Homo sapiens: one gene and its partner. The protein of the gene in region 1 purifies or fractionates together with the protein of each later gene. This does not show direct contact. Each region holds a gene or a part of one and is shown on either strand. Other genes may lie near its edges.

Region 1 (4,959 bases):
TAATGAAAAATACAGGTTTTAGTTCAAGTTGAAGAAAATCTTTGCCCTTATACAGGTATTACCCATACAAAAAAAATTTGGGGAAAATAAAAGTCAATTATTTATTTCCAAAGCTCATATTATTGCTCTCTCTGCTGTCTTTTGGCCATAGCATCATTGAAACAAAATTGACTAGTTTTATTCAACAGTTAAATGTGGAAAGTGTTTTCAGTTACATATTGAGGCTATCATTCAAGGTGTAAAGGGCAGTTCATTGTTTATATTCCATCCATTGTCCAACCCTCCTTCCCCAAAGTAGAAATACCATGACACAAAATAAGATCACTAGAAATTCCTGAAGCTGTACTAACAAAAGGCCCCAAGAACAAAAGCTCTCCTGCCAATCTCCAAAGGGAATGTCACCCTCGGGAAATTTAGAACTGTATGCCGTGTCATATGCAACATATGACTGCCTTTACCCATGTATGTGGCACATTTAACAACATTAAACTAACATTTATTAAATGCAATTAATATTCTGCTTGACAACCAATTCTGGCTGTTCGTTTCATGAGTTAGCTAATGAGTTACAACTAATATATTACAATCTTCCGATGTATTAATTTTAATAAGTAATAACCAATGTTCAGAGTAAAGACTGAATGTGTTTTATGGTGCTAGAGAAGACAATGCCTCACAGAAATTTGAGATAGAGTAGAAGAGATAATTTTTCAGAAAAGCTCTTTAAAGTAAATATCAGATAGGAAAAAATTTAAGGTTCCAATATCAACTCCCTTTTCATCTCTCTTTTATTAACTCTTCAGATCATAATACCTTTATATTTTGTATGCCTTCGACTGTGAAATCACAGTTCTTTCTTTCTCTTTTAAGTATGTATTAGTTCTGAAATTACTTTGCTGAAGATTTTGAAATCTTCTGAACATCAATTTGTATCATTTTCTTCTCATTTTTCTTGCATGCTATTGTAAACTTCTTTGTTCATCCTTAGAATATTGGTAATTATATTATTTTTTCATAAAGACCAAATATCATATAAAATATACATTTATTTCATTAATAGAAGATATTGTACACAATGTATTCAATTATTTCTGATGCCATTTTTGTAAATGTATTCTGTTGTCTCTAATAATATTCTGTTTGTGAAATTTAGAAGGAAAAAGTATAAATTTCTTGTAGACAAAAGATAGCTTCCTTAACAGTCAGCTAAGCCGCTCCTTTCAAAAACTTCAAGAACCTTTATACTCTCTTTTATGAGCAAAGTGATACTAATCTGCATTGGACTGATAATGTTGGTCTCTGGAGCATCTCCTCTGAGTTCCTAAGTTGGAGCAGCATTGCCAGTTCTTACGTATGTCCTCATGTTAAATTATGAATTGCTAATAACTGAAGGGAACAGGGTCTCTGTTTCGGAGGATAAAGTTGCATTTGGAATATTTTTCCAAAATGAAGAGCTAATCCAATATTGAGATATCTGTTTGTTGGATAATCCAATGAGTTTGGTGTTTCCTTTATATTCGATAGTACTGACTTCCTTCACTATATGTTATTATAAATGCAAATTAATTATTTCATTTGATTGATTGAACTTAGACTGCCAGTGAGGAGAAATTATTGTATTTTCTTCCAAAATAACTTATCTTGTCATTGATTTTTATTCTGCATCAGAGCAGCTTAATTTTTAAAATGGCCAAAACGGCATCTGCTTATGCAGCTAAAATTCTGATTATTATTTAATTTAACCTAAAATTATATAGCTTCATAAGTAATATCCTTGGAGTTTGTATATTTTAAGAAAGGACATTACATGCACACTGAAATAAACTAATTGGAAAAAGACATGGGATTAAGAATGGTTTTTTGAAAAATAAAAGTATGTAATCAAATACATTTACTTAAATTAAATTTATTATTCATTTCTATGTTGATTCATTTCCACTAAATCAATTCACTATAAAGTCTCTTACTGGCCTACCGAGGATTAGCTCTTTTCAGGCACACAACAGTCCAATGAGATAGGTGCCATTATTACCTTCTGTTTTTAGACAAGAAAATGAAGGCACAAAGTAATTAAAAATCTCCAGCTTGGATCTTTCCTCCCATGAACTCCAGACTCATGTAACCAGAGCTACACTGGACAGTTCCACTTAGGTGTTCAGAAAGCTTCTCAAATTTCATGTATGAGAACTCAGCTCTAGATCATCCTATATAAAATATGCGGCCGGGCGCAGTGGCTCACGCCTGTAAATCGCAGCACTTTGGGAGGCCAAGGCGGGCGGATCACGAGGTCAAGAGATCGAGACCATCCTGGCTAACACAGTGAAACCCCGTCTCTACTAAAAATACAAAAACAATTACCCGAGTGTGGTGGCGGGCGCCTTTAGTCCCAGCTACTCGGGAGGCTGAGGCAGGAGAATGGCGTGAACCCGGGAGGCGGATCTTGCAGTGAGCCGAGATCGCCCCACTGTACTCCAGCCTGGCGGATAGAGCGAGACTCCGTCTCAAAAAAAAAAAAAAAAAAAAAAAAAAAAAAAATGCTTCCTCTGCAGTGTTTCTTCTCTCAGTTGGTCACAGTTACATTCTACAAGTTAGCCAAAATTTCAGAGTAATGTGGTTTGCTTTCTTTATGGCCTATGTTAATTTCATAACAACTCCCGTTAGCTCTACCTCCAAAATCCAACCTTTGTTAACACTGCCATTGATTCTCCTTTGGTATGAACCACCGTCATCTATTCCCTAGGTAGCTTCCACAATCTCCACCTTGCCTCATTTAGTACATCTCAACACAGCAGCTAGAATAGAATGACTTTTTAAAAAATATACAAATAAGATCATGTCACTTCCCTGCCTTACACACACACACATGCATGCACACATATACACACCCCGTCCAGTGGTTTACCATTCAAAGTAAGAGCCAATGTCATTATGGTAGCTTAAAGGTCTCACAAACACTAGCCCTTGTTTGCTTGCCTGACTTCGTACTCTATCTTGTTTCTCTCTCTGCTCCAGTCATATCGTTCCCTTTCCTTTTTATCAAATAAGTCTCAAGCTTCACTTGCCATTCTCATTTCCTGGAATAACCTTTCCTCAGATATCAGCATTACTTTTTTGCTTATGTTATTCCAGTCTTTTCTGAAATGCTGACTTCCTGGTGAGGACTTCCCCAGTCACTCTACTTAAAAATACTTCCTCCCTACACCTATACTTCTCAACTCCCTTCCCTTTGTTTTTTCCCCATAACATTTATCACCATCTTACTTATATGTTCATGTATGTACTTAGGTTGGTCTTTATCTATCTTCCCCAACTAAAATATAAAAAGGCAGGGGATTTTGTCTGTTTGGCTCCCATTGTCTATTATATGTTATATACTTAATAAGTATTTGAGTGAATAGATTAATTAATATGTAAATTTATTTGCTCAAAGGCCAAAGCTAGTATGTGGCAGAGCTGAGAAAGAGCCCCTTCTCTGAACAGGACATTAAGAACTAGGGGAAAGGGGCCGGGCATGGTGGCTCATGCCTATAATCCTGGCACTTTGGGAGGTGGAGGTGGGCAGAGAGCCTCAGGTCAGAAGTTCAAGACTAGCCTGGCCCTCATGGTGAAACCCTGTCCCTACCTACCAAAAATACAAAATTTGCTGGGTGTGGTGGTGGATGCCTGTAATCCCAGCTACTTGGGAGACTGAGGCAGGAGAATCGCTTGAACCCGGAAGGTGGGAGTTACAGTGAGCTGAGATCGCACCATTGCACTCCAGCCTGGGTGACAGGAACAAAACTCCCTCTCAAAAAAAAAAAAAAAAAAAAAAAAAGCTAGGTGAAAGGGAGAATAGGCTGGAAATAAATTATCTAGGAGAAACAGGTTGATGGATAGACAGATCTATCTTTTTTAGCATTGGTTAATATATTGGCTTCCAAGGGTATTCTTTGATTTATAAGACAAATGGAATACAAGATTTGGACTCAGCAATGCCTGCTTTGGAGAAACTTTACAAAAGGGAGAAGAACACTCTTTAAGATGTGTGTGGGTTTTTCAGTCTTTGGGATACAGACTGACATTTCCCACCATTCATAATCTCTCTTATGGGACACAGGGAAGGCAGCTTTCTCACCCCAGTAGTTAGTTTGACACCACGTGGCAGAGTTGTTTTCAATGAAATAGAAGTGATGTGTGCCACTTGCCATTACAACCTCCCAACAACCACTCATGTTCTGTCTTCCCCTCAGAAACCATAAAGGTCTGATCCAGAAATGATGGTATCCCAGTGCTAAAAAGGCCTACATCTTTACAATACTGCTTAGAAAACAGCAAACACTGTTGTAAAATCTATAATGCAAAAGGTTTATTGTAAAATGTCTGTACAATCAATGCTGCTAAGTATCAGCCTTCCCAAAAAGAACAACTTGATTTTTACATAAAAAGTTATGAAATTATTTCTGACATATGGATCCATACCATATAAATGCTATGGCATATGCATTTGCTGCAAAATAACAATGTTCTTAAGGATAACCTGTAGAGCACCATCCAAAATAAATGTCTTTGCACTGTATCATAATTAAAATGGCTTTGGATTAAGCACTTGGGAAGATATGTGGGCTGAAATTTCCTTTGCTATATCACTACTTCTAAAATGTATCATTTTCTAATAACACATAATCCATAACCCCTTTTTGAAATGCTGGCAATTTTGAAAATTTAGAAACATTTATTTTTTAGAAAGATAAGCAATATATTGATCATACTTTAAACTAGGAGGTAGCTTGCTTTAAGGAAACATTCTAAAAAAGCTTGCAATAAAAGTGTCTTAGAAAAAAAGAGATCTGTATTTTGTTGATTTATATTTTATATCTTCCACATATTCTGAATATTATCTTCAAACATTTCTGAAAAACCACAGAAAATTCTATACCTAGACATTTTTCTCTCTCCACAATATTCACAACAGAAAAAATA
Region 2 (4,959 bases), on another chromosome or scaffold:
CCTTTCCTGATCCTTTAGATTTCATTGTTCATTCCATTGCATTCCCACCGTGTGCGGCATTGTTCTCCACTTAATTTTTATTTCATGTATGTTGTTTATAGGTCTGTGCTCCAATACGTATTTTTTCCCTTTAAGGGCAAGAATCCTATCTTAGTTATCTATCTCCCCAAAACTACCGGTGTATCTTATACTTTGGTGGCAGTAAATGACTCTGTAAGAATTAAATCCAAGGCAGCATGTTAACAGAAAAAGCTAACATTTAACAGGAGCTTCCTGTATATCAGATACTATGCTAAAAGATTTATGTTTATTAACTCATACAGTTCTCAAAACCACCTACTTTTTTTTTTTATGATCCCCATTTTACAGATGAGGAAATTGAAGATTAGAGAGGTTACATTGCTTACCCAAGGCCACACTATGAAATGGTGGAGCTGGGATTCAAACTCTTGTTCCTAATCACTATACCATGTCTATTTATAACAAAAAGACACCATCAAATGAGGTAATGCATATAAAATGACAAACACTGAGCCAGATATGGAGTAAGTTTTCATTACAATGATTATAACTTTATGCCCTGAAGATGCACCAGACTCTACTGGGAATGTGACATGTTTTCTCAATTTTATTTTATAACAACTCTATGCTCTTAGCACCTCTAGTTCCTGGAGAAGGAAACTTAAGTTCTTAAAACCAGTAATTTGCCCAGGGAGATGGAGTTAGGAAGCCTTCTAAATGAAAATGGAGTTGGAAAGAGACCTGGATTTTTCTGCTATTTCTGTGAAAATCTAGTGGATGTATAGATAACTTTTGTACAAATAATTATTTGTAACATGATTGCTTTTCAATGTCAGACAAATGAGAACACAGATAAGCCTGAGCACAGATGAAGAGCTTCCAGAAAAATACACCCAGCGTCGCAGGCCGTGGCTCAGCCAATTGTCAAATAAGAAGCAAGTAAGTATCATTTTGACAGGCAAGAGGGGAATGGAGAAGGTTGTCTTTTTAGAGTCTTCATTCATGAGGTGCTGTTTGTTGCCCAGAATCTAGTATCCTGCTTGGCATAAAATAAGTGCTCAGTAATTTGTGAAGGAATGTTCTAGAAGAAAGTAAAAGGAAAAAGAAAAGACCAGTTAAAATAGGCTACTTATATTTAAAGGCAGAACTTGAAAATGGGCAATGAGTGGGAAAAAACATATTCTGGCTTCTGTCATTTTGAGGCTGAGATTAATTTTCACTTCAGTGAGAAACAGCATTCTTAGGAAGTATGGTAAACCCAAGCACAAACTGCCACCACATAAAAAGAAAAAGGCCATTTTTCTTCTTTTAAGGAGAAAAAAAATCCTTAAAACAAGGTAAAACTATTGAAGAGGAGTACATCATCTTTTGAAAATTTTGATATGAAAAAAAATCCAGTAAAATGCTGTCAAGAGAACTTGTGATCTCAAAAGTGTACAAAATGATGAGTGTATTGCTGGATCCTAAAGGAGTTTTATAGTTAGTCCTTTTCTACATTTATCTCATCCTGGCTTCTGCCTTGGTGTAGCTGGATAAGAAAAGTGAGGCAGAAGGCAAATATGCTTTGTCCCTATATTTTTTAGTACAAATTATTAAAATGATAGTAAAACAACTCACTTATTGGTTTTCACAGTCCAACACGGGCCGTGTGCAGCCGTCAAAACGAAAGCCACTGCCTCCCCTCCCACCCTCTGAGGTTGCTGAAGAGAAGATCCAAGTCAAGGCACTTTATGATTTTCTGCCCAGAGAACCCTGTAATTTAGCCTTAAGGAGAGCAGAAGAATACCTGATACTGGAGAAATACAATCCTCACTGGTGGAAGGCAAGAGACCGTTTGGGGTAAGACACTTACATGACTTAGTCAGTATCCAATTCTTCCAACACAAAGAAGACTACTTAGTGACTCAGGCTTATAACTCTTCCCTCTGCATGAAATGGAATCTGTCCCCTCTCCCCCAGGATGTGTGAGAGAATGAGAGAACAGTGATTTCAGGCAGAGTCTCAGAACCAGATACACCTGGCTTCACATCCTGATGCTGCCGCTTACTATTGTGTGTCCCCGGGCAAGTCACTTACCGTCTCTGAGTTTTTGTTTCTTTATTTGTACAATGGAAATAATAATTCTGACAATGTAGGTTCTTATTCTAATTTGTGCTTTCATTTGGGAATTTGTCAGTTTTTTCCTGTTAAGCTCTAAGGTAAGAACAGAAATAGTATTTTATTCACTTTTATGTTTCTAGAATGACTAGTTTTGAAAGCAAACATTGCAGTCGCTGCTGAATTAGATTAGAAAGAAAAAAGACCCTGGGATGCAGATAGGTTTCATTGTGCCAATTGCAACAGATGGTTAATGCCTGACTGGAGTCCTGAGTTGAGAAGAATTCTGAGGAATATCTGGACTTCCTGAGAGAGAAGGCTGGCATTGATTTCTGATATTTGCCAAGATTTGGAGATTTTAAGTATCTAAGTATTATAAGCATGTAAATTACATACCTCTCCAACTACATTTTCTCAATGATGTGGCTCTCTTAACAGTTCTCAACATGTGGTGGAGACTTTTCAGTGGAAAAAGAGGCATTAGTAGGTTCAGGACTGTGTAATTAGCCACACCTGCGGGTATACTATTGGCATGCCTCAGACTTAAAAATTGAATTTTTTATTTCACAGTAAGTGAATAGAGTTTTTAAAAATATATAATATGCAAACATTAATGTCAAAATTCTGCTTTGCCACTACCTCCAAACCCAAGTGTCTCCCCAAAAGTAAATACTATTATCCATTTTCAGATTATTTTCAGTATACTTACATGCACATATCAAAATATATGGTATTGTTTGTAGAATTCATTTACCTAAATCTTATCTTACTTTCTGCATGATTCTGCAACTTACTTTTATTTCTCAATAATATGTCTTGGAGATCTTTTTGTAATTTCAAATGTTGGTTAAGGTATAGGAAAAGTGAAACTTCTACCATGCTGATAGGTGTGTAAGTTGGTATATCCTCCTTTGAGGACAATTTGTTGCATATCCTGAAAGATGTACATATCCCGTGACTTAGCAATTCCCGTCTTTGCTATCTGTCTTTGAGAAATATTCTTCTGTACAAGAAGGCGTGTTCAAGGATTTCTTTACAGCGTTGCTTCTACTAGCAAAGTAGCTAAACTAGAATACCTATGCTATGGAATACTCCTCAGCAATTGAAAAGAATGAAGTCGATGTCTTTGTAATTGCTGTGTTTTTAACATAATCACTATGATATCAGATGATCATTTAAGTGCCCCTTTTTCTCTCTGAAAAGATTGTGGGGTCATAAAACCTCTTAAACTACTCACATTACAAGTTGGCATCTTAATACATTCCTTGTACAGAGATTTTTGTTGAGTTAGAAATAAAAAAACTTTTTTTTCTCCTTTTAACAATTTAATCAGTAAAATGAATTTGATTTCCCCCCTACATCCTTGAGGTTTTAAAAGGATTGTTGCCATGATAATGCCACAAACATGCCAAGCATTTTGATTTTTGCTTTTTCTTTTGTTGTAGGAATGAAGGCTTAATCCCAAGCAACTATGTGACTGAAAACAAAATAACTAATTTAGAAATATATGAGTAAGTCTTCTCCAAAATATAACCTATGAAAATCAGGGACATTTTGGCAGCTTGTAAGTATAGATACTGTTTTGGGTCTGTAGAAGGAAAAAAAAGTAACACATTTGACAGCGTTAATAATAAAGAGACGTTTGATCCTTATCATGGTTGATTCAGAAACTTCTTTTCCTTATACTTATTTTTGTTCTGTTTTGTATAGCCACTTTTTCTGTTTTAACAGTGACAGCCTGAACCCAAACACTCATCTGGCACTTATTTTACTATATATCTTAACTGGAAAATTTACTTTAAAAAATGACATTAAATTTTCAATGAGTGGTAAACTTAACCATATAGATAAAGTACTATATTTTGGCTTATGTTTTTATATGTTTTAGAAATAGCTGACGATAAGAACTAGGCTAATGCTGTAGTTTGGAAGAACTGTTTGGCATGTTCACTAGAGTTCCGCCTGAAATCTATTTTTGTTACAATTACAGATTTGGAAGATGGAGGAAATCTTAGCAATCACTTTTTTAGCCCCTCATTTTGCAGATGAGAAGACTGATAGATTACAGGTAGAGAACGGCCTGAGACTAGTCATATGTTTTTTATAAATTTAGATTTTCAGTTTGAGCATCTCCCCCTACCTTCATCCCACTTGGGCACTTATCTTAAAATTAGCATATGCTTCCACCAGGTGGCAGTAGGTAATATGCATTGAGGCATTAAGACAAGTGCTTCTCTGAGAACCAGGCAGCAAATACAATTGAATGAGAGAACCTCCTTGGTTGGTCTTGCTACTAATAAAGCCCACCTGGAGGCCTAACTCAGTACATCTCTCCTAAAACAAATTCGAATTCAAAAGCTTTGGTGGATAATGTAGACTTTATTGGAGGAGAGAAGGAGATGACTTCAGGACACATGACTCATCTACATTACTCTATGAGATTTCTCCAGTAGCTATTTCTGTTCTCTCTCCAGTCACTCTCCTCAGCTCCATCATAGGATCTCTTCTCTCTTTTCCCACCTTCACTTGGCCTCCTGTCTCTATTGGAGCCATTTAGCCCTTCCCGAGATTCTAATCTCCAGTAAATCAAAGTTCTCAGGTGACTGAACCCACCTTCCTTAGAAAACAGTTCCAAAGTGCTCACTTCGGCAGAGCATATACTAAAATTGGAATGATACAGAGAAGATTAGCATGGCAATTTTTAAAAATTGAAAACAAAAGAGGCCAGGCATGGTGGTTCATGCCTGTAACCGTAGCACTTTGGGAGACTGAGGTGGGAGAATTGCTTGAGCTCAGGAGTTCAAGACCATCCTGGGCAACATGGTGAGACCCTATCTCTAT

The links. Proteins that work in one complex are often made in the same cells at the same time.
Region 2: the proteins of ROBO2 (region 1) and TXK fractionate together in Homo sapiens (co-fractionation; one large-scale study listed by BioGRID). This does not show direct contact.

What each region holds. Positions count from the first base shown.
Region 1 is NC_000003.12:77,637,674-77,642,632, reverse strand, and holds part of ROBO2 (roundabout homolog 2 isoform 23 precursor), read right to left. Parts: intron 1-4,959. UniProt on the Homo sapiens protein: Receptor for SLIT2, and probably SLIT1, which are thought to act as molecular guidance cue in cellular migration, including axonal navigation at the ventral midline of the neural tube and projection of axons to different regions during neuronal development.
Region 2 is NC_000004.12:48,109,208-48,114,166, reverse strand, and holds part of TXK (tyrosine-protein kinase TXK), read left to right. Parts: exon of another isoform or gene 1-425; coding exon of another isoform or gene 426-505; intron 506-857; coding exon 858-960; intron 961-1,654; coding exon 1,655-1,860; intron 1,861-3,563; coding exon 3,564-3,629; intron 3,630-3,637; exon of another isoform or gene 3,638-4,163; coding exon of another isoform or gene 4,164-4,186; intron 4,187-4,756; exon of another isoform or gene 4,757-4,814; intron 4,815-4,959. UniProt on the Homo sapiens protein: Non-receptor tyrosine kinase that plays a redundant role with ITK in regulation of the adaptive immune response. Regulates the development, function and differentiation of conventional T-cells and nonconventional NKT-cells.